Regions from separate parts of the Homo sapiens genome. Here region 2 is linked to region 1. The links come from fine-mapping of genetic effects on gene expression. A gene starts in region 1. The other region holds a variant in brackets. All regions are shown on one strand. Distances are from middle to middle.

Evidence for each region.
Region 2: its variant is fine-mapped to the expression of PAFAH2 in whole blood (INTERVAL, PIP above 0.99).

The regions. Positions count from the first base shown.
Region 1 is chr1:25,988,952-26,003,967 of GRCh38, forward strand. It overlaps PAFAH2 (platelet activating factor acetylhydrolase 2), which reads right to left and starts at 9,112. Exons shown (of 11, transcript NM_000437.4): 1 at 9,074-9,112; 2 at 1,776-1,912; 3 at 497-650. The coding sequence starts at 1,865. RefSeq lists enhancers at 4,620-5,131, 8,858-8,937, 9,108-9,197, 9,208-9,257.
Region 2 is chr1:25,956,905-25,971,920 of GRCh38, forward strand. It overlaps PAFAH2 (platelet activating factor acetylhydrolase 2), which reads right to left. Exons shown (of 11, transcript NM_000437.4): 11 at 2,863-5,179. The coding sequence ends at 5,085. It also overlaps the pseudogene RNU6-110P. Among named protein-coding and RNA genes, the nearest start is that of PAFAH2, 34 kb to the right of the region's middle. The variant G/C (reference allele first, on the strand shown) is at 7,085.

The sequences.
Region 1 (15,016 bases):
CTCAATGTTACCCTACTCAGAAGAGGGGTGACTGGAGGGAAAACTGCAGGAAACTGTACGCTCCTTGACAGTTAAGAATCTTTCTTTGATACACACAATAGCTGGCACAGAGTAGGAATTAATACATGCTAAACAAAGGAGCAATCAGTGCCATTTATGGAACACATTATATGTCCCAAGCACCGCATTAGAGGCTTTACGTACATCCCGTACTACAAACCCCCAAAGACATGTATTTAGACAGGTTCAGTAACTTGCCCAAACCCCATGGCTAGTAACTTATAAAGTCTGGATTTGAATCCAGGAAAGTCTAACTCAGTCACCAAAGCTCTTTCATATGTAATTCTCTCCCAACTCTCCATACCACACTGGCTAATGGATGCCCCTTACAAAAGCCTGGACACTGCAGGCTATAAGGTACTGCGTCCACCTGGGGATCTCCCAGGAACATAACCAAGCAACTGGGAAAGCATGCAGAGGTCAGGCCAGCCCTTACCCACCGCCAGGTTGAACAGCAAGCCCCCGCAGCGCTTATTAAACTGCAGGTACTCGGCCAGGCCAGTGCAGTACTCATAGCGGGGAATCCACAGGGGCTGCTCCATGGTCTCCTCTGCCTTTTGGCAGGGGTAGAAGAGTCGAAAGAAGCTCCCCTGTAGGAAAGAAGAGAGCAGCTGCTCAGAGCAAGGAGCCCAGGCTAGATTTCCCAACAGCCACACTCAGCAGGTGTTTGGGGCACCAGCAAAACAGGGCACCAAAACAGGGAAACTGAAGTTTCAATTAGCATGCCTGAATTTCACATTCAGAAATCTGGAAAGAAGCAATTTGATTTTTAGCATATATGTAAAGCTTACGTTATTTCAAATAGCCAACTGTATTTTGAATTACATTGTGGGAGGGGGCACCAAAAATATTTGAGTGCTTGGGACAATGAAAGATTTAAATCTGGCCCTGAACCTAGGCCTAGAGGAGCCCCAGGAGTTAGAGATTAGTTCTCGTGCTGAACAGGGTGGCCTTGGTAGCTCATCCAGGCCACTCTGCTCTAGGACAGCCCCTGGGAAGCAACAGCACACTCATTTTACATGGGAGTAGGTGAGGGGTTACTAGGAAGTGTGTGCCTCTCAAGGGAGACAGGAAGTCCAAGGGCTAGCAGAGAAAGACCTAGGAACTAAGCCAGGCACAGTGGCTCATGCCTGTAATCCCAGCACTTTGGGAAGCCGAGGTAGGAGAGTCGCTTGAGGCCAGGAGTTAGACATCAGCCTGGGCAACATAGCAAGGCCTCGTCTCTACTATATATACATATATATAAGATAGAGGACCAGTCCAGAAGTCAAAGCAGGAGGGGAAAACAGATCAAGGCAGGAGAGAGAAAAGGAAGCTGTCCCCCTACCCAGGTCAGGGAGTCCAAGGCCAAAGGCACACGCCCATGGCTCTTTCTCTCACACACTCAGATTATGATACGATTAAAACCCTTCCAAGATCAGGCATCTGCCCTCAAGAAAGGTGAGAGGATCTGCGAGCTGCCTCTAAAGCTAGAGTCCCCCCTTTCCTCCTAGGTGGAAAATGAACGCATTATCTCTGTCTATTGGGATGTTTCTAATGTTTGGAAAGAGGAAGAAAAAGCTCAGGAAGACAGACCTGGGGGCTTGATAACCAAATCCAGACCCGCTCTAATTCATTTTCCCCACCGTGGGAATACAGGATCAGACTTGTGATCAGTAAGTCACGGTGCCGGCAGAAGCAGTGCAAACAGAAGAAAGGGAGCTGGGGACACTTACCTGGAGATTCTGACCCTCCATCACATCCCCACAGCCTACGAGGTGGGGTCCTGTGACAGGTGGAAAGCCCACAGACTGGTTGACCCCCATTTCATCACCGGGTGAATCAAATGACTTGCCGGAGCTGAACTTGCTGGCTGGATGGGGGAACACAGAACAGCAGCCGCTTGCTGGTTTCCTCTCGGCTTCCTGTTGCTGAAATGTGTTATCTGTTACCCTGTCCACCCCTCCTTAGCACCTCATCCTCCCTGCCGTCGCTCATTAAATCTTGCACCTACTACTTTGCTACATTGCCTTTGCCAAGGTTGGGGGTTGTTTTTTATTTTGCTAGGGTGAGGAGATGGCTGGAAGACGAAAGAGAGCCATCCATACTCCTTACAGCCCATTAACGTATGTTTATCCAGCAGCTACTGCTGCAGAGACTGTCACACAGACCTTGCTCTCCTGAGGCTAATAGTAACCACTAAGATCCATTATTTACGGTTAGCACTGTACTGACCTCTTTATAGACACTATACACATTGCATCATTTCATTGTCTCAACCACTCTCTGAGGTAGGTACTTTTTTTTTTGAGACGGAGTCTCGCTCTGTTGCTAGGCTGGAGTGCAGTGGCATGATCTTGCTCGCTGCAACCTCCGACTCCCTGGTTCAAGCGATTCTCCTGCCTCAGCCTCCTGAGTAGCTGGGATTACAGGCACGTGCCACCATGCCCAGCTAATTTTTTGTTTAATTTTTAGTAGAGACGGGGTTTCGCCATGTTGGCCAGGATGGTCTTGATCTCCTGACCTCGTGATCTACCCACTTTGGCCTCCCAAAGTGCTGGGATTACAGGCGTGAGCCACCGCGCCTGGCCTGAGGTAGGTACTATTAAGACCTTGTTTTGGCCAGGCACGGTGGCTCACGCCTGTAATCCAAGCACTTTGGGAGGTCGAGGCGGGCAGATCACCTGAGGTCAGGAGTTCAAGACCAGCCTGGCCAACATGGCGAAACCCCGTCTCTACTAAAAATACAAAAATTAGCCGGGTGCAGTGGCAGGCACCTATAGTCCCAGCTACTCAGGAAGCTGAGGCAAGAGAATCGCTTGAACCTGGGAGGCAGAGGTTGCAGTGAGCCGAGATTGCACCACTGCACTCCAGCCTGGGTGACAGAGTGAGACCCTGTCTCAAAAAACAAACAAACAAACAAAAGACCCTGTTTTACAGATGAGGAAACTAAGGCATAAAGAGGTTGAATAACCTTCCCAAGTTACCCAGTGGCAAACCCATCTCTGCCTAATCCGGAAGCTAAGTTCTTAACCATTACTGATCCTGCTCAGGGGGAGATTCAGTTATACAGATGCAAAGTTACTGAACTAAGCTTTTTCTTAAAACCGTTTGATTTTTTTGAGAGACAGGGTCTTGCTATGTTGTCCAGGCTGGTCTCAAACTCCTGGGCTCAAACAATACACCTGCCTAGGCCTCCCAAGTAGCTGGGATTACAGGTAAGAGCCACCACACCCAGCTTTTAAACTACTGAATATGGGGTAGCACTTATGCTGGGCCTTTAAAGATGAGGAAGTTGAGAGGCAGGGGAGGAGGAAGAAAGCACTTATAGAAAAAATCCTAAGAGGAAAAAAAGCAGAGGTAGGGAAAAGTATGATGTGGGCAGTAGATCAAACAGATGCTTTCAGCATGACAGGCATGCACACTCCTGACTAGATAACATTCCTACGGCTCAGCTGCTTCCTAAACTGGTGCCAGTGCTCCCCTAACCCTCTTCAGTTTCATCATCTCCAACACCACCATCATCATCATACTTACTCTGTGCCAGGAACTATGTTTAGTGCTTTTCACATATTATTTTATTTAATTCTTTCAACAGTCCTCTGAGATACGTATTATTATCTCATTTTACAGATGAGGAAACAGATGCTTGACAAAGGCAATTTACCCAATAACATATGGCGAGCAGAGCCAGAATTCGATCATGGACAATGTGGTTGTAACATGAGAATGTCAAACTTCCCAGTGTCCCTTGCCTTGTGATTTGGGTGGGGCTGACCCCTCCTTAACCTCCGGAGTTGAGCCTTAATTAACCGGAGCCAATCAGTCCTTCTTATTCTCCGGTCAGTATTTGGATGAAAAGTGCGCGTATGGCATTAGGTTGGTCCAATAGGCGTAAAACCCGGGACTTTGGTATGACGGTTGAGGGGAGAAAAGTTATTTCCTGTGTTGGACTAGTGTGATGTGCAGATGTCACCTGTCAAGTGGCCTTGAACCACAGCAGCCACTTTTGCCACCTTGAGGATGAAGATACCCATGGTGGATGGGAAAACCAGAAGAATCACAGAGAAATAGAGGCCCATTTGTGAAGACATTAAGAATCCACAGATTAGACCATACCTGAAACCTGACCCACTCCTAGACTTTCTAGTTACATGAGTCAGTAAGTTCCCTTTCTTGGTTAAACCAACTGAAGTTAGATTTCTTTTGGTTGTAACCAAAAGCATCTAAATGGATACACACTGAGTCTGGGGTCCACATGTTAATGATTAAATTATTCTGCTTCCTTTAAGATGCTCTGGGAGGGATTCAGGAGTTCCAGTCAAAGCATGTCTGGGTAAGAAGAGACCTAAGGGAGCATTTCCGTCAATCCCCTCCACAATCGTTTTCCCCTTCTCCGCGTACATACACGTGCTTTACCAGGGAAGACACCAAGGTCCGGAGAGATTAAGTGAGCTGCTCAGAGTCACAAGCAGAACGATGATAACAACACACAGTCTCCTGGTTGTCAGCTGCCACTTGTCTGGTCTCAACAATCCTAACATCATTCTATTTAACTTTGAAAGATAAGAAATTATTTTCTTTCTACTACAGATAGCATCTTCATTTTGTTTCTTTTTAGCAAATTTAAAAACAAACCCAATTCTTTTGAAAAAGAAGCTAAGCTCCTGATGTCAGTGGGTTGTTCAGCCAGAGTGAAGGGGGATGAGCTCTGCTTAGCCTGAGACCCTGACCTTTCCCCATCGCTTGTTGTTGAGGTCTGCAAATGGAAGACCTACTGCTGGGGCCACAAGACACCTGTCACTCACATGACAATGAAGCAGCTGCAAGTTCAACTGTCATAAAAGAAAAGCAGATAAAAGACCACAGGAGTTCTGAGAAGAAACAGTGCTCCTTTAGCTTGGAAGTAGAGAGCAGGGGAAGATGGGAAAGGCTCTTTCAAGCAGGAGAGAGCAAGCAAAGGCACGGTAAGAAGGAAGCTTGTGTGAGAAACAACGCAAGGTGAGAAGAGAAAGTTGTGACCAGATTTGGGGAGGAGCAGTCCCTCAAGTGCTAAGCTAAAAAGTTGGAATCTACTCTGGAAATGAGGTCATGTCCATGAGAGATAGTCTGAAAGAACCACATTGGAGGCCCAGCTCATTTGGTGCCTAGCTTTTTTTTTTTTTTTTTGAGACAGGGTCTTGCTCTGTCTCCCAGGCTGGAGTGCAGTGGCTCACTGTGGCCTCACCCTCCCAGCTCAAGTGATGCTCCCACCTCAGCCTCCTGGGTGGCTGGGACTATAGGCACTTGCCATCACACCCGGCTAATTTTTGTATTTATTTGTAGAGATGGAGTTTCATCATGTTGCCCAGGCTGGTCTCAACCTCTTGGGCTCAAGCGATAATCCTGCCTTAGCCTCCCAAGGTGCTTGGGATTACTGGAGTGAGCCACCGTGCCAGCCCTGCCTAGCTTTCTTATCTTATGCAAGTTATCTGATCTCTCTAAGCTTGATTCCCCATCTGTACAATGGGAACACTATCCATCCTCACAGGGTTGCTGTGGAAATAAAATGAAATAATGCATTCAAAGCATCTGGTGTGGTACCTGACTCTTAGGAAGCATCCAAGAAATGTGCTGATTGAGTGAAAAGTAGAAACACTAGGGTTTGGCCACTGAGTGAATCTGGGGAGTCAAGAGCCAATAAGTCAGGTTTTAAGATTGGGGAACCAGGACAATAGTCCTTAAGCTTCTTATGGGAACAGATTTTTGTCTCACTCTGCATAGAGAACAGCACTTGGGATAGGAATCAGGATAAGCGGACTTGGAAATGGCCAAACAGAAGACAGCAGAACTCTCTGGTGCTCCTGGAAAGTTTCTGGGAAGATCATCAACTAAATTGTTTGGAAATAAAAATTACAGAAGCTAATTGGCCAGAGTGAAGCTAACACGCAAATGAATCTTTATTTCCTGGACTCACATTGACTGATGTCCAAATAGGATGGAGAGATGGAAAAATCCAATCTGAGTTGCAAATTTTGCCAAAGAGACATTTACACAAAGCATCCAGAGTCATTTCTAATAAAAGTCATGGAATTTTCCAAGGAAATCAGTCTATGTGTCTCTACCTTCTTTTGCTCACTTTGTCTAAATAGTTCATGGTAGTACCTGTCCAGAAGCCTCTCCATCCACTGAGGCCCAGTGAAATCTCTAGTCCTCTGTGAAGCTTTCCCAGGTCCTTCCAACCTTTCCTCCTATCATCTCTGATCACTGTCCACATCCATTATCTGGTAACCAATCTTAGACTACTTTAGGGCAGCTCTTGGATTAACACCTATTCTAGCAGTTTTCAACCAGTGACTTGCCTGCAACAGTGGTCCATAGAGAATCTAGATCTTAGGTTCCTGAACCTATTGTCACAATCACCTGGGAAGCTTTTCAAAAATGTATATTCTGGGGGCCCCTATTTCTAGTGATCAATTCGTTTGTAAAAGCTTCCCAGGTGTTTCTGATCAGCAAAGTTTGAGAACCTCTGGTCTAGACTTTGATTAGAAATGTCTCTGGATGAACTTTTCTTTCATTCAGACACGTATGCATGCAGCAGACGCTTACTGAGTATATACTGTGTTCTGGTCCACATTTTCACGACTACGATTTCACTTGCTATAATCCCCATGGCCACCCAGAAGCATGTTCCTATCACTAGACTTAATGTAGTGCCCTGCATATAGCTGGTCTCAATAATTAATTTATCCAATGAATACTATTTAATTTTTGGCACACTTATGCCTCATCTCTTCAGATCTACTCCGGGGGTAAAGATTGGGTTTTATATTTTTTTGTAGACCAAACTGTCTATCTGCATGCTTTCCCCATATAGTTGGGACTCAATAAATGTTCCTTCATTTGGCTATGATTTAAACCCATCTCAAGTCTTCTTTAATCTTTGTTTTTGATCTAAAAATAAGGCTATATGAAATAATGGGGGACAAAGGTTTTGATGACTCTGAATTCTACCCCTGTCACTTATTAGCTGTGTGATCTTGAACAAGTTCCTCAAACTCTAAGCTTCTGATAATTTATTCTCACAACAGAAATAATAACTATGGCCAGACGCAGTGGCTCATGCCTATAATCCCAGAACTTTGGGAGATCAAATGGGAAGGATTGCTTCAGCCCAGGAGTTCAAGACCAGCCTGGGCAACATGGCAAAATCCTGTCTCTATAAAAAAATTAAAAAAAAAAAAAATTAGCTGGATGTGGTGGTATGCAACTGCAGTCCCAGTTACTCAGGAGGCTGAGGTAGGAGGATTGCTGGGGCTTGGGAGCCGGAGGCCACAGTGAACCAAGATTGTGCCACTGCACTTCGGCCTGGGTGACAGAGCGAGGTCTTGTCTCAAAAAGAAATAGTAACTATGGGCCGGGCGCGGTGGGAGGCCGAGGCGGGCGGATCAGGAGGTCAGGAGATCGAGACCATCCTGGCTAACACGGTGAAACCCTGTCTGTACTAAAAAAAATACAAAATATTAGCTGGGCCTGGTGGCGGGCGCCTGTAGTCCCAGCTACTTGGGAGGCTGAAGCAGGAGAATGGCGTGAACCCGGGAGGCGGAGCTTGCAGTGAGCCGAGATCGCGCTACTGCACTCTAGCCTGGGCGACAGAGCGAGACTCCATCTCAAAAAAAAAGAAATAGTAACTACTCACGAGATTGTTGATGAGGATTAAATAATGCATGTAAAGCACTCGATGGATAGAAGGTACTATAACCATAGGAGGCAACTATAATTATTTTAACTACATGCCTCTCAAGTTCCTTATACGTAAAATGGATACTTCGTAAGTGAAAATATTGCCTAGGGCCTGGTGCATTTTCAGTGCTTATAAAATGTTAGGAACTAATTAACAATGCTATGTCTCTCTTTCCTAGCCAAGGTCTCTCATTTTTCCTGGATTAAGCCCTTTGGCAAAACAGATTCTTTCCCAGCAGCCTTTTCAGGCCTCAGACACCCCTACCAAAGCCAGTGTCTACTGAACAGGCCCAGAGGAGCCCAGAGGGAATGGATGGGGCTTAGGTTGCAGCTGTCCTCTCCTGCTGGGACCCTGTTTCTGGTGAGCAGAGGACTGCTGCTCTGCCAGCTGTGTGACACTTTCATCACTGGCTATTTCAAGATACAGTCCAAGATAAGCACTTCTCTTGTGCTTCCTTTCAGACAAAGCTCTCTGAAGACTAAAAGCTCATTGGCCTGACCTTTGGTCTCTGGAGGAAGTGAGGAAATATCATCCAGCTCGTAGACAATGAAGACACCAAGCACTCGAGGGATGAGATTGAGCAACAAGGTGGCAGAGCTAGAGAAGAGGCCTGATAAGAGTGTTCCAGAGCATTAATAATTGTGATAAAAATAATCTCTGTCTCTTGTGAAGGTCTTACAGTTTACAAGGCATCTTCACACATACTAGCTTGTTGGCTCCTCAACACTCCTCACCTGAGACTGATGGAGCAACAGTCATCTCCGTTTTAGAGAGGAAGAAACTGAGTCCCAGAGTTGTATGATTTGCCCAAGGTCACAGAGGGTGAGAGGCAGAGCTGGCCTAGAACCGGGTCTGCTGACTTCGAGTCCAGGGTAATCGCGGATCGGAAAGAAGGAATGGGGACCCTTCTTCCACCGCCATGAAAAACAGAAAACTGAGAGTAAGAGTAAAGTACACAAAGGGTGGAGGAGCATAAAGAAGCCCGGGGTTCAGGGATGTGAGGCTGCAGGGTGAAGGTAGGGCCGAGGAATCAGGGTAGGGCTGTGGGGTCCAAGGTGGGGCTGCGGGGGCTGGGTCCTGGGACGGGAGCTCAGTGGGGATTCCAGGGGCACTGGCCGTTAAAAGTGCGAGGCGACCGTGGGAGGGTCAAGGGAGCGGGTGGCTACAGGTGTCTGAATAGGAAACGTAAAGGACGAAGATTAATGTGCAATTCCTATGACTGAGAGACGCCGAGGCCCCAAACCGGGCCAGAATACAAAAGTCTGCAGGAAGCTCAATTGAGATATAGGTGTTTTCTCCAATCAAACTTACCCAGTCAAGCTGATTCCTCAGAAGCAGCCCCAGACGTTTAACTCGACGGAAATGAGAAACGACCCATGAACCCGTGGCCCTTTGGTCGTCGTAGTTTCCAAGGCTCAAAATGGACGCTTGGAAGCACTTCTCGTTCCTCAATCTAGAACTACAATTCCCGATGTACAGTGCGCGAGATTGCGCATTACAACTCTAAAACTACACCTCCCAGAGTTCTACGCGACCGTCCAGCCCCGCGTGGTCGTGCGAAACCGCCCAAGGCCTGGGATGCGGTGTGATTCCTCCCCCTGGTGGCCTGAAGAGGTGCCGCCGCGATTTCTGCTCTCGAGCGGAGGGTTTTGCCTTAGTCCCGTGCGTAACCCTCCGCCTCACCCTCCTCAAATAGTCCTCAGGCGTGCCTAGAAATGGTCCCCGCTTCGCTTTATTCTCAAGGAGGTGGGAGGAGGTTGGAGTTTGTTTTGTGTCTTCTGCACACTTTGCTTCCTGTAAGAATAATAGACTGATCATTCAAATTAAGGGGACATTCCCTACCAGCCTGCATCTGTTGACACCTGTGATTTTCCATTGTCCTCAAAAGACTCCCTGGCAGAGAAAGGGGAGGAACCCGAGTAATCTGCTGGGCCGCATCCATCCCACATTACTGTCTAATGCTGGTTCTTAGCGACACTGATGGACAAGATACCGCTCCTAGCCTCAACAGAATCACAGTCTAGCAGAGAATTCAGACAAATGAATAATGACAGCACAGAGCCGTGATCTCATGGGGAGACACAGCAAGCGTGGGAGCCTTGAAAAGGGGCCTCTGGCCAGGCTTGGGGGAAAAGGGCGGTGTCCGCAAGGCTTTTTAGAGGGAGTGATGTTTGTTAACATTGAGACCCGATATAAGGAAAGAACGTAGCCAGGAGTACAGAGACTGTGAAGGACGTTTCAGAGTATGGCATTAAGTTCAGTGCTGGCTGCAGCTAAGTGTGAGGGATGGAAGGAGAGTATTCTCGGGGGAGTGGGCGTTAGGCAGAGCCCATCCTCAGGAGTTCTGTAAACTTCTATAGGAAATTTGGATCGTTCAGGCAGCTCAAAAACGTTCAACGGCCCTCTACTACCTATGAAGTGAAGTCCCAACTGCTTAGCCTGACATTCAAGGTCTTCTCCAACCTGCACTCCCCCACGCCCCACCCCCCACCCTTCAGCGCCCCTCCTCTGGGAGCTTTGTTCATGCCTCCAAAGTTTCCGCCGACATCTGTGTGTGCCTCGCACATGTGAGTCGACTCACACTGCCTTGGGTATCTCCTGTATTAGAGGTCTTAACTCTTGACACATTGTGAGCTCTTTGAGGTCAGGTACTGAGTCCTGCAGTCGCCCCCTCCACCCTACTCTTGCAGCCCACATCCCCCCGAAACACCAGGGTCCAGAGTCCCTGCTTTAGGCTCTCCTCTCCTGCCGACACACTGTTGTCACCCCCATCCTTCCAGGAGCCAAGATAAAGTCATCAGGAGAGAGTGCTGGCAGCCCTGCACTGTGGTAATTAAGCCTCGGATCTCATTAAATCTGTGGCTGATGGCGGTGGCCACAGAACCTGAAAAGCTTAGCGCAGATCAGAGAGCGGCTCCCTTTGGCCCATTAATCCGTGCTGTGCAGCTGGCCAGAACACTCACGACAAGCCAGAGGTCCTTGGTCATGAGAGGGACAGCTGGAGGTCATTTCTTTCAGTCTCCTACTCCCAGACCAGGCCATGCTGGAGCCATTTGCTGGCCAGCTGAGTTTAAAATTTCCCAGGGATGGGCATGTCACCACCTCCTTTACCTCCTTTGTCACAGTTAGGAAGCTCTTCCTTGGGCACAATCAGATTCTTCCCTGTTGCAAAATAAAACAGTTGAGTTTAACTATACTTCCTTCCAATCCGGTCTTTTCTAGGATAAACAACCCAAATGCCTTTACCTTTTTAAGCAAATGGTTGATTTTCCAGCATTTTCATCATAGATCTCATCCTCCAGTAGCCCAAAGTTCCCTTCAAATCTATCAGCTACCATCCCAACTCTGGCCTTTACTTTGTTGCTAAATTGCTTCAAGTTGGTATTTGGGTGACCAGCTTTGGATTTCCTTTTTTTTAGGGGGGCGGGGGGGACAGAGTCTCGCTCTGTGGCCCAGTGGCGGGATCTCAGCTCACCGCAGCCTCCGCCTCCTGGGTTCAAGCAGTTCTCCCATCTCAGCCTCCATAGTAGCTGGGATTACAGGCACATTACCACACCTGGCTAATTTTTGTATTTTTAGTAGAGATGGGTTTTCATCATGTTGGCCAGGCTGATCTTGGACTCCTGGCCTCAAGTAATCTGCCCACCTTGGCCTTCCAAAGTGCTGGGATTACAGGTGTGAGCCACCACGCACCACCAGTGGACAAAACTTTTAAAATAAAGGTAGAATAGGTATACAATAAAGTATGTAATGGGCACTAAAGTATACAGCTTAACTTCTTAAAAACATTTGCTATAACTACCATTTACTTCAAAATGTAGGACGTTTCCAATATCCTGAAAGGTTGGCTTCTCAGTTGTAATCAATCACCCCCACCCATCCTCCAGAAGGAACAACTACTTTCCGTCTCTTATCATCAACTAGTTTTGAGAAGCAACATTTTTTAACTTTGATAATAACATTTTATGCTCACTGATAGCTGATACTTGTGTCGATGCCATTCCAGTCAAAGACCACCGGAAACACACCTGTATTAAAGAAGTTGTATTAATTATTCATTGCAGCAAGAGAGAAGGCAGGCAATGGGGAAATAAGGGCAAAGGGGGTGCATTTCTGTAGGAAGGTGGAAGAAAGAATTTACAGAATTTGGGCTTTTGTTAGACAATCTGGGGAGAGTTTAAGGAAGCAGGGCTTGGCTTTGGATTGGATGCTGTCAAGAGCAAGGGTAATTCTATGACTGGGGGTCTTGATAAAATGTATCTAGAAGGAGGGGAGGCTAGACCAAGGCTAAAGCTGTCATAGGTAAGAAGCAGCAGTCTCTCATTTTAGCACGGACGGGGGGTTGGTCTTTTTCATGGTTTGGACAATATCCATTTTTTGTTTGTGTTCAGACATGATGACAGAGTGGTCCTATTTGTGTTTTGATCCATTACAGTCACAGAGTGGCCTTGTCTGCTGTTGATGTTCTATGAAGTTGTTTATGTTCAACAGGACAAGGCCAAGTCCTGGCTGTGAGTGTCAGGCTGGCCTCTGGACTTTGGGGGCTACTTTCCTCTTTCTTACATCCCAACATATGGTGACGTCTCTTCTGGGCTGTATGCTTGGCATGTAGAAATGATTTGTCTTGGCCGGGCGCGGTGGCTCACGCCTGTAACCCCAGCACTTTGGGAGGCCGAGGTGGGCAGATCACGAGGTCAGGAAATCAAGACCATCCTGGACAACATGGTGAAATCCCATCTCTACCAAAAATACAAAAATTAGCTAGGTATGGTGGCGTGCGCCTGTAATCTCAGGAGGCCAAGGCAAGAGAATCACTTGAACCTGTGAGGCAGAGATTGCAATGAGCTGAAATCTTGCCACTGCACTCCAGCTTGGCAACAGAGTGAGACTCCATCTCAAAAAAAAAAAGAAAAGAAAAGAAAAAAGAAAAAGAAATGATTTGTCTTTGTGTCCTTGGGGACTTCCTAGTTAGTGGGGAAAAATGGACAAGAAAACAAATAGACACCATTATCAAGCACTCTAGTGAAGGGAGTGAAGGGTCTGGTCTCTGGAGACAGGCTACTGAATTTAAATCCCAGCTCTACCACTTACTAACTGTGAGAACTTGGGCAATGACTATTCCCTAAGCCTCAGTTTCCTCATCTGTAAATTGGAATGACAATAGTATTTATATTATAGAATTGTTTCAAGGGTTCAATGAACTAAACATGGATCACTGGTTACTTAAGCAGCTTGGACTTGGGAGGGGGCCGGGATGGATCCAAGTTTTGGGGCTTGAAACTTACACAGTTTTGGGGGGCTCTCTTTAAGAAAAAGAATTTTAGGCCGGGCACCGTGGCTCATGCCTGTAATCCCAGCACTTTGGGAGGCCGAGGCGGGTGGATCACCCAAGGTTAGGGGTTCGAGACCAACCTGACCAACATGATGAAACCCCCATCTCTACTAAATATACAAAGATTAGCTGGGTGTGGAGGCATGTGCCTGCATTCCCAGCTACTAGGGAGGTGGGGGCTGCAGTGAGCTGAGATCGTGCCACTGCACTCCAGCCTGGGCGACAGAGTAAGATCCACCAAAAAAAAAAGAAAGAAAAAGAATTTAAAAATATCTTTTTCAAAATTTGCAAAACGTATGACCTGGGAACACATTGCTAGGTCTCCTTCCAGGGCCTGAGAAGAGGTTCTGGAGCTAAAACTTCATTACTTTCTCAATAATTCTGACTGTGGGAAGAGACAAAGAGGCAAAATTATACAATAGCTTTATTCTTTTCAAATCACTGTCTTCAAACAAGCGCTGCCAAAATGTCCTTGCCCTTAGCTGAAAACTGCTCCAGTACTCTTAGCTCTTTCTTGTATTATAGCTTACAAGTCAGTGGGCAATGCACTAGTGATGGAGAAACTGACTTAGGTCTGGTTCTGCATATAGCTACACCTAGTCTTTATCAGCATTGGGACCCAAGTGGAGTTCAAATGAATCCTTTTTAACATCTTGTTAACAAGATGTGCTTAACAAAGGTCAAGAACAGGAATTGTCCTTCCTTACTTTGCTACTGTAATCATTCTTCCATTCAAAAAATATGTATTGAGGCCAGGTGCGGTGGTTCATGCCTGTAATCCCAGCACTTTGGGAGGCCGAGGCGGGCAGATCACTTGAAGTCAGGATTTCAAGGCCAGCCTGGCCAACATGACGAAACCCCGTCTCTACTAAAAACACAAAAATTAGCCAGGCACGGTGGTGGGCACCTGTAATCCCAGCTACTAGGGAGGTTAAGGCAGGAGAATTGCTTGAACCTGGGAGGCGGAGGTTGCAGTAAGCCAAGGTCGCGTCACTGCACTCCAGCCTGGGCGACAGAGTGAGACCCTGTCTCAAAAAAAAAAAAAAAAGTATTGAGCACTTAGTATGTCCCAGGCATTATGCTTGGCACTGCATATAAAGCAGTGAATAAGAGGGACCAATTCCCTGCTCACACGGTGCTTTCATTCTAGTGAGGAGAGACAGAGTTAAACAAACAAACAGGTGGAGCGTGGTGGCTCACGCCTGTAATCCCAGCACTTTGAGAAGCTGAGGCAGGTGGATCACTTGAGGCCTGGAGTTTGAGACTGGCCTGGGCAACATAGTGAGACCCTGCCTTATAAAAAATTAAAAAAGAAAATAGCTGGGCGTGGTAGTGCATGCCTGTAGTCCTAATTACTACAAGGCTGAAGTGGGAGGACAATTTGAGCCTAGGAGTTTGAAGCTGCAGTGAGCTACGATTGCGACACCGCATTGCAGCCTGGGTGACAGAGTGAGACCTTGTCTCTAAAGCAAAAACAAAAACAAAACTCCAAACAAACACATAACCAAGATAATTATATACTATGTTAAATGCTTCACAGGAAGTAGGATACTGCTTTGGTGGAGAATGAAGGGAGTGAGCTACTCTCAATAGGGTGGGAGGGAAGGATTCTCTGAGGAGCTGGCATCTGAGCTGAGCCCAAGCATACCTACCATTTATTGATTATCTCCTATGTGTCAGCCATGTCATTAGGTAACTTTCAAATACTTTACATTTAATCTTCCTGTGAAGTATGTCATGTCTTTTCCATTTTTCAGATGAGAAAACAGAGGCTCAAAGAGGTAACAGCGGACAGTGTTGACACCTGCCTCATAGCCCCTCATCCCTTCTCTGAGTTCCCTTGCCAGTGTGGTAGTTTTCAGCATGCTCAGGGCTCCACCACACAAGAGCCTGCTTCTCTTGGCTTCCTTGCCTGAGAGCTT
Region 2 (15,016 bases), 32 kb before region 1:
CAAAAACCCTTGGCTGGGCATGGTGGCTCATGGCTGTAATCCCAGCACTTTGGGAGGCCGAGGCGGGTGGATCCCCTGAGGTCAGGAGTTCAAGACCAGCCTGACCAACATGGTGAAACCCCATCTCTAGTAAAAATACAAGAATTAGCTGGGCGTGGTGGCACATGCCTATAATCCCAGCAACTCTGGAGGCTGAGGCAGGAGAATCGCTTGAACCCTGAAGGCAGAGGTTGCAGTGAGCCGAGATCATGCCATTGCACTCCAGCCTGGGCAACAAGAGCAAAACTCCATCTCAAAAAAAAAAAAAAACCCTCAAACTTTGATGCCTATGTCCCAGCTTTGCCAAATTCTTGCTGAGAGCCTGATGAAATCGCTTCTTGAAGCCTGTTTCCTCCTACATAAAATGAGGCCAATGCCACCTGAGCTGGTGGGGTTACCATGAGAAGTAAGTGAAATGATGCATGTCAGCCCAGAGCACAGTCCTGACACACAGCGACAATCATCCTCAGCACCCTCATTGTCACTGTGCCCTGCAGCTATGGCCAGGGACAGCTGCCCTCTGCACCTGGCTATGATGGGATAGAAAGTGAGCTTCCTAATGAGGATGAGTCCCAAACATACAGTATGGCCTCTCCTGTCCCTCTGTCACTTTGTGAGCCTAGGGATAAGTGGTGCTCCAGAAAAAAAGGGGGTAGATGAAGGTCCCCACAAGGTCAAGACACGGAGTTGGAATCCATCATTTGACATTTCAAGAGCCCAATAGAATTTTTGAGGAAGGACAAGAGGGGCAGCTGTGTCAGAATGCACAGTGGAAGGGGCTCGGGGATTGCATTAGGGACACAGCAAGAATCCAACCAGCCTTAGTCTGAAGTCCAGGAAGTGGAAGGGATATTTACTTACCTTCCTTCCTAACTGGCTTGCCATCCCATGCACAGAAACTTCACATTATACCACTAGGAGGCCTCCATAGGCACAGAGTCTTGCAGCGGGATGGGGAATGAGAAGATGCCAAAGAAACCCAAGACAGGCCGGGCGCGGTGGCTCATGCCTGTAATCCCAGCACTTTGGGAGGCCGAGGCGGGTGGATCACGAGGTCAGGAGATCAAGACCATCCTGGCTAACACAGTGAAACCCCGCCTCTACTAAAAAAAAAAAAAAAAAGAAAAGAAACCCAAGACATCCTCTTTCTGGAAAAGATTCACTAGGATGCAATTTATCAGCACATGTCAGTTATCATCAGGATTTCCTTGCTTATCTAAAGGCCATTTATGAAGTATCCTTCAGGCCCCTGGAAGCTAACCAAAAACCAGAATGAGAGACCAAAGGCCTTGTGATACCCCTTCTGGAGCAGTCAGAGGATTACGAAGCCCATGCGCTAAAGGTGACATACTTTAGCTGCAAGGGAGTCCCTAAAACCCTTGCTCACTGACTGCCTTGTTTTCCCTTAGACAGAGTTTTAAATAATGTGGCTGATTTATCAGTCCATTGCGCATCGAAAGTCATAAACTTGAAGTGGCCAGGGAGGGCTGCTAGGGGCTGGTGCGTTGAAGAGCGATGGTTGCAGCCTGACCACAAATGAGACAACACCAACTCTGAACAGCAACGCAGCACAGGGGGCAACCCCATGCAAGCCAAACAGCTTTCTGCACCTTCCTAGATCAGAGGACACCACTTCTCTGACATGAGACCTGGTCACAAATATTTTGGCTTTCTTGGGATGTTAGGAATGGCCACAGGACGTGCTTTGGCTTATGACACATGAATAGAAATAACGAGAGTCACTCCCGGGCAGAAGCTCTCAGAGCTAGCGGGTGATTCATCAGGCTTTCTTCCTGTTCCACCATGGTGAACAGCAACACTTTCTGATAATGGCAGCTCTACCAGCCTGGATCCTAGAGTGAGGATAAAAATGATGCAGAGCAGAGCCTGCAGCCGATCAAAGAGCACAAGTGGCATGGGCAAGAAATAAACTTTTGTTGCTTTTGGGATTGCCTGTTACCACCATACAACCTAGTCTATCCTGACTGGAACATCCTAAAAGGTTGAACGAGGTCAGCTCACTTTGATTAAAAAGTGTGTGTATTATCTTTTTGGTAGATTACCATTCAAAATAATCAATATTATATTTTGCTGCCTCTAGGATAATTTTCAATTATATGGAAAATTCACATACTCTAGTGTTTGCTGGATAAATGAGTGATTACCAGAACATGAATTGAATGAAGGAAAGGGATCTAGTTTCTGGAACACTCCCTTCACTAGGGAGGCTCCAGGTCTCTTGTTCATGGTTTTGTAAAATTTACCTGTGTTATTTATGGAGCTAAGGTAGAACCTGGGTCTCACATGCTGCTACTGCCAGAACCGGCCTCTCAGCATTTGTGGAATCAGCACAAGGGTGGCGTATGCTCAGGATTGGCCTACGGCTGGTTCTGCAAGTGCTGAGGGTCTCTGGTGCCCATGTGGTAGTTGGAAGGCCCCATTATATATCTGTCTGTGCTCTCATAGAAGGAAATCTATGGGCTCGGCACGGTGGCTCATGCCTGTAATCCCAGCCCTTTGGGAGGCCGAGGCAGGTGGATCATCTGAGGTCAGGAGTTTGCGACCAGCCTGACCAATATGGTGAAACCCCATCTCTACTAAAAAAATACAAAAATTAGCTGGGTGTGGTGGCGTGCACTTGTAGTCCCAGCTTCTCAGAAGGCTGAGACAGGAGAATTGCTTGAATCTGGGAGGCGAAGGTTGCAGTAAGCCGAGATCATGCTACTGCACTCCAGTCTGGGTGACAGAGTGAGACTGCATCTCAAAAAAAAAAGACAGAAATCTATGATGTGTTCTTGAGTAAAAGAGCAAGCCAACAACTTCTTCAGAATATATAGTCTTTTTAAACATACATGGCACATTTACAACATTGATCTCATACTAGGCCAACAACCAAGTTTCAACAAATTTTGAAGGATGGAAACCATATGGGTCATTTTCTCTGACCACAAAGCAATCAAGCTAGAAAAGAAACTATAACTAGAAAAATCTCATGTTTGGAAGGTAGGAAATATACTTTTAAGTAACCCATGGGTTATACATCCTCTCACTTAATCCTCCTAACTATTCATAACGCAGACCCTCATTTTAGAAACGCAGGAGCTGAGATAAGAAAGAGAATACCATTTGCTCAAATTTACCCAGTTGGCAGTGGTGGAGCCAGGACTCAAAACCAGGCTCTGTAACTTTAGAGCCCAGGGCTTTAATGATACCCTTCTTATGCTATGTCTCATGGGAATTCAAAGATCCTCCCTCACAGCCTCAACGATCTGCTGTTTCACCTCTTAGAATGGCCAGTCACTGACAGGTGGAGATCTAGGCCCAGCTTGCTCTGGTGGCCCTGACCATGGGCCATTGTGTAGAGATGCATTTCCCTTTTGCTCTTACCTACTTGGACTGAGGCACGAAGTCTTGAGTAGTGGAGAAGAGAGTTTCAGTTTGATGCCCCCAAATAGCTTTGAACTGGATCCCTAAGAAGACTTCCTTCCTTTTAAAGTTTTTTTCCCACATGGGCCCAAGTAGTAAGCGAACACAGAAGAAAGACAGAAGGAAGTCAATTCCAGATGGCTCTCCATCTTGCTCTACTGCAGATTAAACAGAAAATTCCAACATAACATTAAGCAAACAAGAGTATTAATATCATTCATATTATAAACAGAACAGAATGGAAATTCAGTCTGTATCTGACTTAAATTTGGGGCAAGGGCCTCAGAGCCAGAAAACAGACAATAAAAGCACCCTGATTCTGAGCAAGTTGGAGGTTTATAATATTTGAGGCAAGAAAAAATGACCAAGGTACTCCTAGGCCTCTCTGGGAGTGGCCTTCTGCGTTTTTAAATTTTATTTATTTTAAATTTTTCTTTTTCTTTTTTTTTTTTTTAAGACAGAGTCTTGCTCTGTCACCCAGGCTGGAGTGCAGTGGCGCGATCTTGACTCACTGCAACCTCCGCCTCCTAGGTTCAAGTGATTCTTCTGCTTCAGCCTCCTGAGTAGCTGGGATTATAGGCGCCTGCCATTACGCCAGGCTAATTTTTTGTATTTTTAGTAGAGACGGGGTTTCACCATGTTGGCCAGGTGGTCTTGAACTCCTGGCCTTAAGTGATCTGCCTGCCTTGGCCTCCCAAAGTGTTGGGATTACAGGCATGAGCCACCACGCCCAGCCTTCTTTATTTTTAAGATGGGGTCTCGCTCTACTGTCCAGGCTGCAGCTGAGTTTTAGCTGACCAAACTACTTCTCTGTTGTGGCAAAGGCCTGTGCAAATGGCCATTTAACACTGTTGTTCTGTCATCTTCCCCATCTCAACCTGCTTTTGTTGTTTCCTATCAAGATACACTTAGCAAAACCCCCAAAGACATCCAGAGCTTCTGAGGTACCTCTGTGTACCTCAGTTTTTCTCCCTGTGCTGTGAGAGCCATGCTGTCTGCCACTCTGTGGGCTCACAAGTATAACTTACTACTGTAAGTATAAGTAGTACTATGTTCCATACAATGAGAAGACTTGGAAATAAATAGAAAATGTGATCACGGCTCACACCTAGAAATTTACATAAAGTGCTCAGACTTCAACAAGTGGCCCTGGGGAGGGAGAAGGCTGAGAGGTAGGAAGAGATGGTGTTGGGCTGGGCTAGAGTCTCTGAAGGTAGGGATTTTCATTCTGTCCTTTGGCTTCATCTCTTCCACTGAAGCAGCAGCACTGGCCGGGGGTAAGGGAATGAGCTTCGCTGGGCTGAGTCTTCACATCCAGGCCTCACAGTGCTCAGCCCGGGGCCTGGGTCTCCCCCAGTCCCACTCTACTGCTTGTTCCCCACTCCATCAAGGTCCCAGAAAGTCTGTTTGTCAATCAGCAAGGGATCCCAGTCCCAAAGTGATTTTAAGATCAAATCTAAGATCAAAGTACCCAGTTATCCAAGCAGCAGTGTGATTACACCTTTCAATCTGTGAAAAGGGGTCACGTTGATCACTTCTTGATAGGAGCTCATGGGTGCCCTTGGGTAGCTCCCAAATGAAAACTTGGCTGAAGTGACTTTACAAATGGCCAGTTGTGCCTACAGGCTGGACAGATGGTGGGGGGCCCCTGGGGTGAGCGACGGTCCAATGCCTTCAATAAGGTTGTTCCATTGATTATAGTCTTCTTTCAGGTCTGAAAAGGAAAAAAACAGGAACATTAGGCAAATCATTGTGAGGTTTGGTCAAAGAGTAGCTGACATGCATTGAAGGGGTCATCCTAGAGAGAGGAGCGCCTGGGATACCAAAAGGACTGGTTTTGGTGGGGTTGTGTGGTGGTGGCGGTAACGATAACTATCATTTATTCAGTGCCTTTATAAATGACTTACATAATCCATAACAATTCAATAACGATAATAATAACAGAGGGTAACATTTATTGATGGAGAATTCATTCTAAGGATTGTACTAAATGCTTTACATTCATGGTTTCATTTAATTTTCACCATATCCCTATGAACTAAGTATTAATACTAATCTTATTATGTAATTCAGGAAACTGAGGATCAGGGAAGCTACCTGAGTTGCCCAAGGTCATTAGAGCTATTAAGTGGTAGAGACAGAATTCAAATCCAAGTCAGAAAGGCAGAGAGGGCTGGGCATGGTGGCTTATGCCTGTAACCCTAGTGCTTTGGGAGGCTGAGGCAAGAGGATCACTTGAGGCTAGGAGTTCCTAGACCAGCCTGGGCAACGTAGCAAGACCTCAACTCTACAAAAAAATTAAGAAATTAGCTAGGTATGGTGGTGTGTGCCTGAAGTCCTACCTACTCAGGAGGCCAAGACTGGAGGATTGCTTGAGGCAAGGAGTTGGCGGCAGTGAGCTGTGATAATGCCACTGCACTCCAACCTGGGCAACAGCAAGACCATGTCTCAGAAAAAAAAAAAAAAAGGCTGAGAAAATGAAAAGTCTAGTTCCAGGCTCAAGGAGGTTACTAGGCAAAAAGCAGTATCTGACAGCTCAGCCTGTGGGTGCAAATCCAGGACCACTTCAGTGAAGGGCAGGAGCAAGAGGACAGCAACATCATGGAGCAGCGAAACTCCAGGAATGACTCAAGAAGGGGCCCTGAGCTCACAGCCAATAGGGGTAACTACACGGCAAGAACAGGCACAAAGGGTCCAAGCCCTCAGGCTGAGGGAGCAGGGCAAGCTAAGCAGATGAATGGTGTCCTTCCTCAAAACAAACAGACTCTGGGACAGAAGGCAGGGACCACTCTCATGCATTTTTGGATTCCCAGTGCCCTGCCAGGAACCTGGCACGGAATAGGTCCTCAATGTATAAGTACTACATAGTCATTAATTCAAAAAACAATAAGCACATCCACTATGTGCCACACTCTGTTCTTTGAGCTAAAAATATATCCACAAACAAAACAGATGGAAACTGCTGTCCTCACAGAGCTCATCATCTAGTGGCAGAGACAAACAATAAACATAATAACTATATAGGATGTGAAAAGGGGAGAGGTGCCATGGAAAAAAAATAGAGCCCGTTAAGGGAAGCACTGGTGGTGGCCAGGGGTTGGAGTGAAGGGAGAAAGGAAGGACCCAATGTTTTTTGTTTGTTTGTTTTTTCTTTGAGATGGAGTCTTGCTCTGTCACCAGGCTGGAGTGCAGTGGTCAATCTCGGCTCAACGCAACCTCTGCCTCCCAGGTTCAAGTGATTCTCCTGCCTCAGCCTCCTAAGTAGCTGGGACTACAGGCATGCACCACCACACCCAGCTAATTTTGTATTTTTAGTAGAGACGAGGTTTCACCATGTCGGCCAGGACGGTCTCGATCTCTTGACCTTGTGATCCGCCCGCCTCGGCCTCCCAAAGTGTTGGGATTACAGGCGTGAGCCACGGTGCCTGGCCAGGCCAATGTTTTAAAAAGGGTGGTCAGGGTGGGCCTCACTGAGAAGGTGAGATTTGAGGCCAGGCTTGAAGGAAGTGGGAGTGTGCCACGAGACTATCTGAGAGGAATGTTCTAGACAGAGGGAGGAGCAGTGCAAAGGCCCTAAGGCTGCAGCGTGCCTGGCGCGTTCGAGGCTCATGTGGTGAGA[G/C]TGAAGTGAGCCAAGGGAAGAACAGCAGGGGAGGAGGCCAGGAGGGACTGGAGGGCCACATGACATATACCTGGCAGGATAATCGAGTCTGGCTTTGGCTCTTAGGGAGACTGGGAGCCACTGGAGAATTCGGAGCAGAAGAGTGAGAAGATCTCACTAAATTCCTAAAAGGATCACTCTGGCTGCTCTATGAAGAAAAGACTCTTCAGTGCTCGCTTTGGCAGCACATATACTAAAACTGGAACAATACAGAGATGAGCACGGCGCTTGCACAAGGATGACATGCAAATTCGTTAAGCTTTCCATATTTTTAAAGAGAAATAAATAATAATACCATGATTGAGGAAGCCAAAATAATAAATAAATAAATAAAATGACTCTTCAGTAAAGTTTCAGGATACAAAGTTGGTGTACAAAAATCAGTGGTGGTGATTTTTCTGGGTGCACTGGCTCATGCCTATAACACCAGCACTTTGGGAGGCTGAGGCAGGAGGATCGCCTGAGCCCAGGAGTTTGAGACCAGCCCAGGCAATAAAGTGAGACACTGTCTCTATAAAAAACAAATGAAGAAACAAACAAAAATATCAGTAGCATTTCTATACACCAATAACAATCAAGCTGAGAACCCAATCATAAACTCAATCCCATTTGTAATGGCCACCAAAACAAAAACAAAAACAAGAACAAAACAAAACAAAACCTAGGAATACATTTAACCAAGGAGGTGAAAGATCTCTACAAAGAGAGCTACAAAATACTGATGAAAGAAATTGTAGATGACACAAACAAATGGAAAAAACATCCCACACTCATGGAATGGAAGAATCAATGTTGTTAAAAATGACCATAATGCTCAAAGCAATTTACAGATTCAACGCAATTCCTATTAAACTACCAACGCCATTTTTTACAGAATTAGAAAAAAAGTCCTCAAATTCATATGGAACCAAAAAAGAGCCTGTCAAAGCAACCTTAAGCAAAAAGAACAAAGCTGGAGGCATCACATGACCCAACTTCAAATTATACTACAAGGTTATAGTAACCAAAAGAGCATGTTACTTGTATAAACACAGAAAAATAGATAAATGAAACAGAATAGAGAACCCAGAAATAAAGCCCCCATACCTACAACCAACTGATCTTTGTCAAAGTCAACAAAAATATATACATGGGGAAAAGATACCCTATTCAACAAATGGTGCTGGAAAAATTGGATAGCCATATGAAGAAGAATGAAACAGGACCCATATCTCTCAGCATATATAAAAATTAACTCAAGATGGATTAAAGACTTAAACATAAGACTTGAAACTATAAAAATCCTAGAAGAAAAACTCTTCTGGACATTGGCTCACGCAAAGAATTCGTCCTTAAAAGCAAATGCAACAAAACCAAAAACAGACAAATGAGACTGAATTAAACTAAAAAGCTTATGTACCACAAAAGAAACAATCAACAGAGTAAATAGACAACCTACAGAATGGAAGAAAATATTTCTGAACTATATATCCAACAAAGGGCTAATATCCAGAATCTATAAGGAAAGGCTGGGCATGGTGGCTCACGCCTGTAACGCCAGCACTTTGGGAGGCCAAGGCTGGTGGATCACTTGAGGTCAGGAGTTTGAGACCAGTCTGGCTAACATGGTGAAACCCTGTCTCTATTAAAAATACGAAAAAATCAGCCAGGCATGGTGGCGGGCACCTGTAATCCCAGCTACTCAGGAGGCTGAGGTAGGAGAATCACTTGAACCTGGGGGGCAGAGGTCACAGTAAGCCGAGATCACACCACTGCACTCCAGCCTGGGTGACAGAGCAAGACTTTGTCTCAAAAAAAAAAAAAAAAAAAAAAAAAAAGAATCTACAAGGAACTCAAACAACTCAACAAGAAAAAAAAAAACACATAATCCCATTAAAAAGTAGGCATTCTGCAGAAACTGGACTCAAAAAAAGAAAAAAGTGGACAAAGGACATGAATAGACATTTTTTTCAAAAGAAGACATACAAGTGTCCCACAAACATATTTAAAAAAAAAAGTTCAACATCACTAACCGTCAGAGAAATGCAAATTAAAACCACAATGAGATACTACACCAGTCAGAATGGCCATTATTAAAAAGTCCAGAAACAATAAATGCTGGTGAGGATGCAGAGAAAGGGAACACTTATGCACCGTTGGTAGGAATGTAAATTAGTACAACTTCCATGGAAAACGGTATGGAGATCCCTCAGAGAACTAAAAATAGAACTACCATTTGATCCAGCAATCCCACTACTGGCTATCTACCCAAAGGGAAAGAAATCATTACACCAGAAAGACACCTGCACACATATGTTTATCACAGCACTAGCCACAATAGCAAAGATATGGAATCACCCTAAGTGCCCATCAACAGAAGATCTGATAAAGAAAATGTGGTGTACAGATATACCATGGGATACTACTCAGTTATAAAAAAAGAACGAAATCACGTTTTGCAGAACCGCAGGCCATTATCCCAGGTGAAATAACTCAGAAACAGAAAGTCAAATACCGAATGCTGTACCGAATGCTGTCACTTATAAGTGGGAGCTAAATGATGGGTACACATGGACATACAGAGTAGAAAAATAAGACACTGGAGACTCCAAAAGGTGGGCAGGTAGGAGAGGGGTGAGGGCTGAAAAATTACCTACTGGATACAATGTTCACTATTCGGGTGATGGGTACACTAAAAGCCCAGACTTTACCACGTGCAATATAGCTGTGTAAGAAAATTGCACTTGTACCCCCTACATCTATACAAATAAACCCAGCACTTTGGGAGGCCAACACAGGCAGATCACAAGGTCAGGAGATCAAGACCATCCTGGCTAACATGGCGAAACTCCATCTCTACTAAAAATACAAAAAAATTAGTCGGGCCTGGTGGTGGGCGCCTGTAGTCCCAGCTACTCGGGAGGCTGAGGCAGGAGAATGGCGTGAACCTGGGAGGCGGAGCTTGCAGTGAGCCGAGATCGCGCCACTGCACTCCAGTCTGGGCGACAGAGTGAGACGCCTTCTCAAAAAAAAAAAAAAAAAAAGACTGTGAAGAGAGGGACTGGCAAGGGTGGTAGTGAGGAGACCAGTTAGGAAACCACTGCACTAATTTGGATGAGAGATGATTTGGACAGGATGGTAGCTGTGGGGTGGTGACAAGTGATTCAATTCCATGTGTATTTTGAAGGTAGAGCCAATAGGATTGTTTGAGGGACTGGGTAGGAGGCATGAGAGAAGAGACAAGGATGAAGACTTTGACCTGAGTAACTAGAAGGATGGAGCTACGATTAACGAAGAAGGAAAAGAGTGCAGTTGAAATTGGTTTTGTTTGTTACTTCTATTAGATGACTAAGTAGAGTTGGGGAGCAGTGGCAGAGGGAGTCCCCAGCATGGAGTTGGCACGGAAAGCCATTAGAAGAGGTCCAGGCACTGGGCCCCGCAAGCAGCACAGCAGATGGAAGAGGCCCAAACATGGAGATAGGGGGAAGTCCACAGTGTGGATCTCTGAAGTGAAGATGGGGGTTTCCCAGAGGAGGGGGCCATCAACTTTATCAGAAGCTGCAGAGAGTTCCAGAAGTTGGGGAATGAGAACTACTGGAGCTAGCATTGTGAAGGTCACTGGGCACCCTGACAATAGCGGTTTTGATGGAGTACTGTGATGCAAAAGCCTGGAGTGGGTTAAGAGGGAATGGGAAGAGAGGAATTAGAAAAAGCGAAAGCAGACATTCTTTTGAGTTTTGCTGTGATGGGGAACAGGGAGATGGGTGGCAACTGCAGGGGATATTGAGGTCAAGAGAAAGTTATTTTTTTCTAGGAGAAACTTCAGCATGAAATGAACCAGCAGAGAGGGAAAAATTGATGATCTAAAGTAAAGAGGGGCTGGGCATGGTAGCTCACGCCTGTAATCCCAGCACTTTGGGTGGCCGAGGTGGGCGGATGACTTGAGGTCAAGAGTTTGAGTCCAGCCTGGCCAACATGGCAAAACTCCATCTCTACTAAAAATGCAAAAATTAGCTGGGCATGGTGGTGGGTGCCTGTAATCCCAGCTACTCGGGAGGCTGAGGCAGGAGAATTGCTTGAACCTGGGAGCAGAGGTTGCAGTGAGCTGAGATGGCAGCTACTGCCTTCCAGCCTGGGTGACAGAGTGAGACTCTGTCCTAAATAAATAAATAAATAAATAAATAAAATAAAGAGGGAAAAATCACTGGCGCAATCATGTTGAGCAGACAGAAGAGGATGGAATCTTGTGTTGGGGGGTTGGCCTTAATGAGGCAACTGAGGTGGGAACTCTAGTAACCGAAAGGAAAGCTGATTATACACAGGAAGGTGGGGAGAGGTGGTGTTGGGAGTCTGAGGAAGTGCTGGTTGCTTCCATTTTCTTGGTGAAGTGGGAGGCAAAGTTAACTGAGAGACAGGATAAGGGAAGAGGTGTGAGAGGTTCGAGGAGAAAAAAGGTGTGAAATAGTCTTCCAGGAGAGTGGGAGAGGAGAGTAGGTGGAGACAGGAGCTGCATGGAGTTAATATGAAGGAAGCACCAGTCTTCATAGAAGATCATATCCCCAGAACAGCCAAACAAGTGCTCTCAGAAGGAATTTTTTTCAGAGTGAGAGGTTCAGCTGAGCCACTTACAGCCTATTTTAGTTTCCCATGTGACAATGTACTGTGTGCCTACTAAAAGCTTTTCTCTCTTTGTAAAGCTAATTTGCCCAAGCCCACAGCCTTGGCCTTTTTCTTTTCTTTTGAGACAGGGTCTCACTGTGTTACCCAGGGTGGAGTGCAGTGGCACAATCACAGCTCACTGCAGCTTCAACCTCCTAGGCTCAAGCAATCCTCCTGCCTCAGCCTCCTAAAATGCTGGGATTATAGACGTGAGCCACTGTGCCCAACTTTTTCAGACTGTCTTATCTCTTATCACTCGGATTACTGCAAAAGCCTCCTACCTAAGAGCTCCCTGCCTCTCACCTTGCCCCATCCTCCACAATGCACCAGACTGTGAACACAAGTCTAATCACAACATTCACCTGCTTAGAACTCACCAGGGGCTCCTGACAGCCTGTGGAATAACATTCAAACTCACTTCAGCAAATCCATAGGCTTCTTCCTCTGGCTTCTGCCCACTTCTCTATCTTTGCCTTTCAACAATTCACTCTCCTGAGCTCCAGATACACTAAACACAGTTTCCCAATCCTGACCAGGCCCACTCAAGCATTTATGCCTTCTGTCCAGAAGACCCTCGCCCTTTCCTGCCTGTGAACCCTCCACTAAGATTAAAGGCAAACATTGTGTTGTCAAGGAAGCCCCCTTTCCTAGCTGTTCTTCCTCTCCTGTCAAAGTTAGGAGACTGTCCTCCGTGTGGACAGTCTAAAGACTGAGTGCCTACTGTGGCCATGGAACTTATCACTCTGAATTGTCACCAGAGTCACCGCCAGCATAGTGAAGTGACTAAGGGCATGGGCCTTGGAATTGGCCAGTCTAGGTTACATATTGGCTTTGCCACTTGATAACCAGATAACCTTAAAGAAATTACTTAAATTTCCTACGCTTTGGTATCCTCCCCTGTAAAATGCAGTTAATAATAAAGGTATCTACTGGAAAGGGCTGTCTCTAGAATTACACGCGATAAAGCAGGAGCAGAAGGCCTGGCATAAAGTAAGTCCTCAAAAATCTTCTTTCAGTCTAAGTGCCTCCTACCTCCCATTTCCATGTCTGCTAGCAGGTTTCTAACAGTGAGTATCTTAGCTCAACGGGTATTGCTTTTAAAGGGAGCCCAATCGTGCCATGGTGGGCTTCCCATCATCTTTCATCTTAAGCTTTTATAATGACATGGTGCCTATGAGGGGACAGGGGAAGGGGGCTGAGGACCAGGCAGTCAGGCGCCATTAAAGTCTTGAGACATGGGTCCATTCCCTGCTTGCCAGGTGATAAGAATGATGCCCTAAAATCTCTTATTGACCCTAAGGTCTCCAAACACAGGCTGGAATCAAGGCTCACGATGTGTAAGATGAAACGAACAGGCAGAAATATAAAAATGAAAATTTACTTCCAAAAAGTCAATAAATGCGTAAGACAGATGTGTTTTAAATGCAAACTCAATCCAGGCTGTTTGTTGTGCACTTGTGAGGAATGTGAATGCACTCAGGTCATCCAACTAAAAGGCTAGTGTCCAGAGCACAGAGACGGCCAGGCGCGATGGCTCACACCTGTAATCCCAGCACTTTGGGAGGCCGAGGCAGGTGGATCACTGGAGGTTAGGAGTTCGAGACCAGCCAGGCCAACATGGTGAAACCCTGTCTCTACTAAAAATACAAAAAGTAGCTGGGTGTGGTGGCACATGCCTGTAGTCCCAGCTACTTGGGAGGCTGTGGCAGGAGAACTGCCGGAGAATCGCTTGAACCCAGGAGGTTGAGGTTGCAGTGAGCTGAGATCACACCACTGCACTCCAGCCTGAGAGACAGAGTGAGACTCCGTCTCAAACAAAACAAAACAAAACAAAAAACAGAGCACAGAAGAGACTGTCCAGGATGGCACCGGTCAGACCACATCTAATACATTATAGTCAAGTCAGGGCACCACAGTTTATCTATTTATTTTATTTTTTGGAGACGGTATCACTCTGTTGCCCAGGCTGGAGTGCAATGGCATGATCTTGGCTCACTGCAGTCTTGACCTCCCAGGCTCAAGTGATCCTTCCACCCCAGCCTCCCGAGTAGCTGGGACTATAGGCACATGCCACCATACCTGGCTAATTTTATTTATTTTTTTGCTGAGATGGGGTCTCACTATGTTGCACAGGCTGGTCTCAAACCCGTGGCCTCAAGCAATCCTCCCATCTCAGCCTCCCAAAGTAGCTGGGATTACAGATGTTGAGCTACCACACCCGGCCAGGGCACTACACTTTAGAAGGGGCACCAAAAAACAGCGACTCCAAAGGAAGGGGATAACAAATAGCAACATGGGGAATTGAACCGGGACAGGTGGAGGTACCACGAACATTTAGTTTAATAAACAGAACACTCAGAGAAGACTAGCATAGGTGACTTCAAATATCTAGGGAACTGCCAGGTGCCGTCTGAGGCTTCTATGGGTAGCTCTTGAGGGGTTAACCTGGGCAAGTAGAGGAGGGTTACAAACTAGGAGATCTTGCTCTTAGGTTAGAGTTAAGTCAAACCTTTGAAATTCAGACAAGCCTGGCTCCTTTCTCATGGAAACTGCCCTGCACACAGCACCTGCTGAGGGATCAGAAAGGGACCTCTGATGCAGAGAGCTCAGAGCCTAGCTGGGACGGGGCTACAGTGTGTTCTGGTGGGCAAAGAGGAGCTGATACAATCAAATTGCCTCTCTTGGAAATCTGTTCAAAGAAATCCAAAAAAATATGGCAGTGAGCAGTGGGAGCTGAAGATGAAAGGATGCCGCAAGCTAAAGGGAACACACTCTGAGTGGTTCAAGCCGAGTGAAGTTATGAGGAAGCAGAAATGGAATAAACAGCTGCTATCAGTGAGAGAAAAACCACAGAGCAGAAAAAAAAATGCATAACGGAACAAAGAAAAAGAGATGTCGTGAGAGGAAGACACAGAGAGACTGAACCCATGAGACAGACGGAAAGAAAAGTCAGTCCTGCCAGCCACCCTGATTTCTATAACTGCACTCCCACCCAGTCCAGGTGCACTCTCATAAACAAACTCCCCTTTTTTTCTCAAGCTAAGTTTGTGAACCTCTAGTCTTTGTAACCAATAAAGCTTAATAAGAGGATGCCTCCTCTGGGTGGAAGCTGGACCATGGACCTCTGCAGGCCTCGCCCTTTAGCTGCTCTATGACTGATGACATTATTCATAGTCCTTCCATGCTTTGTTTCTTTAAAACACTTCCATAAATTTAGCCCGTTATCCTCATAAACTCCCCTACAATGCAGATAAG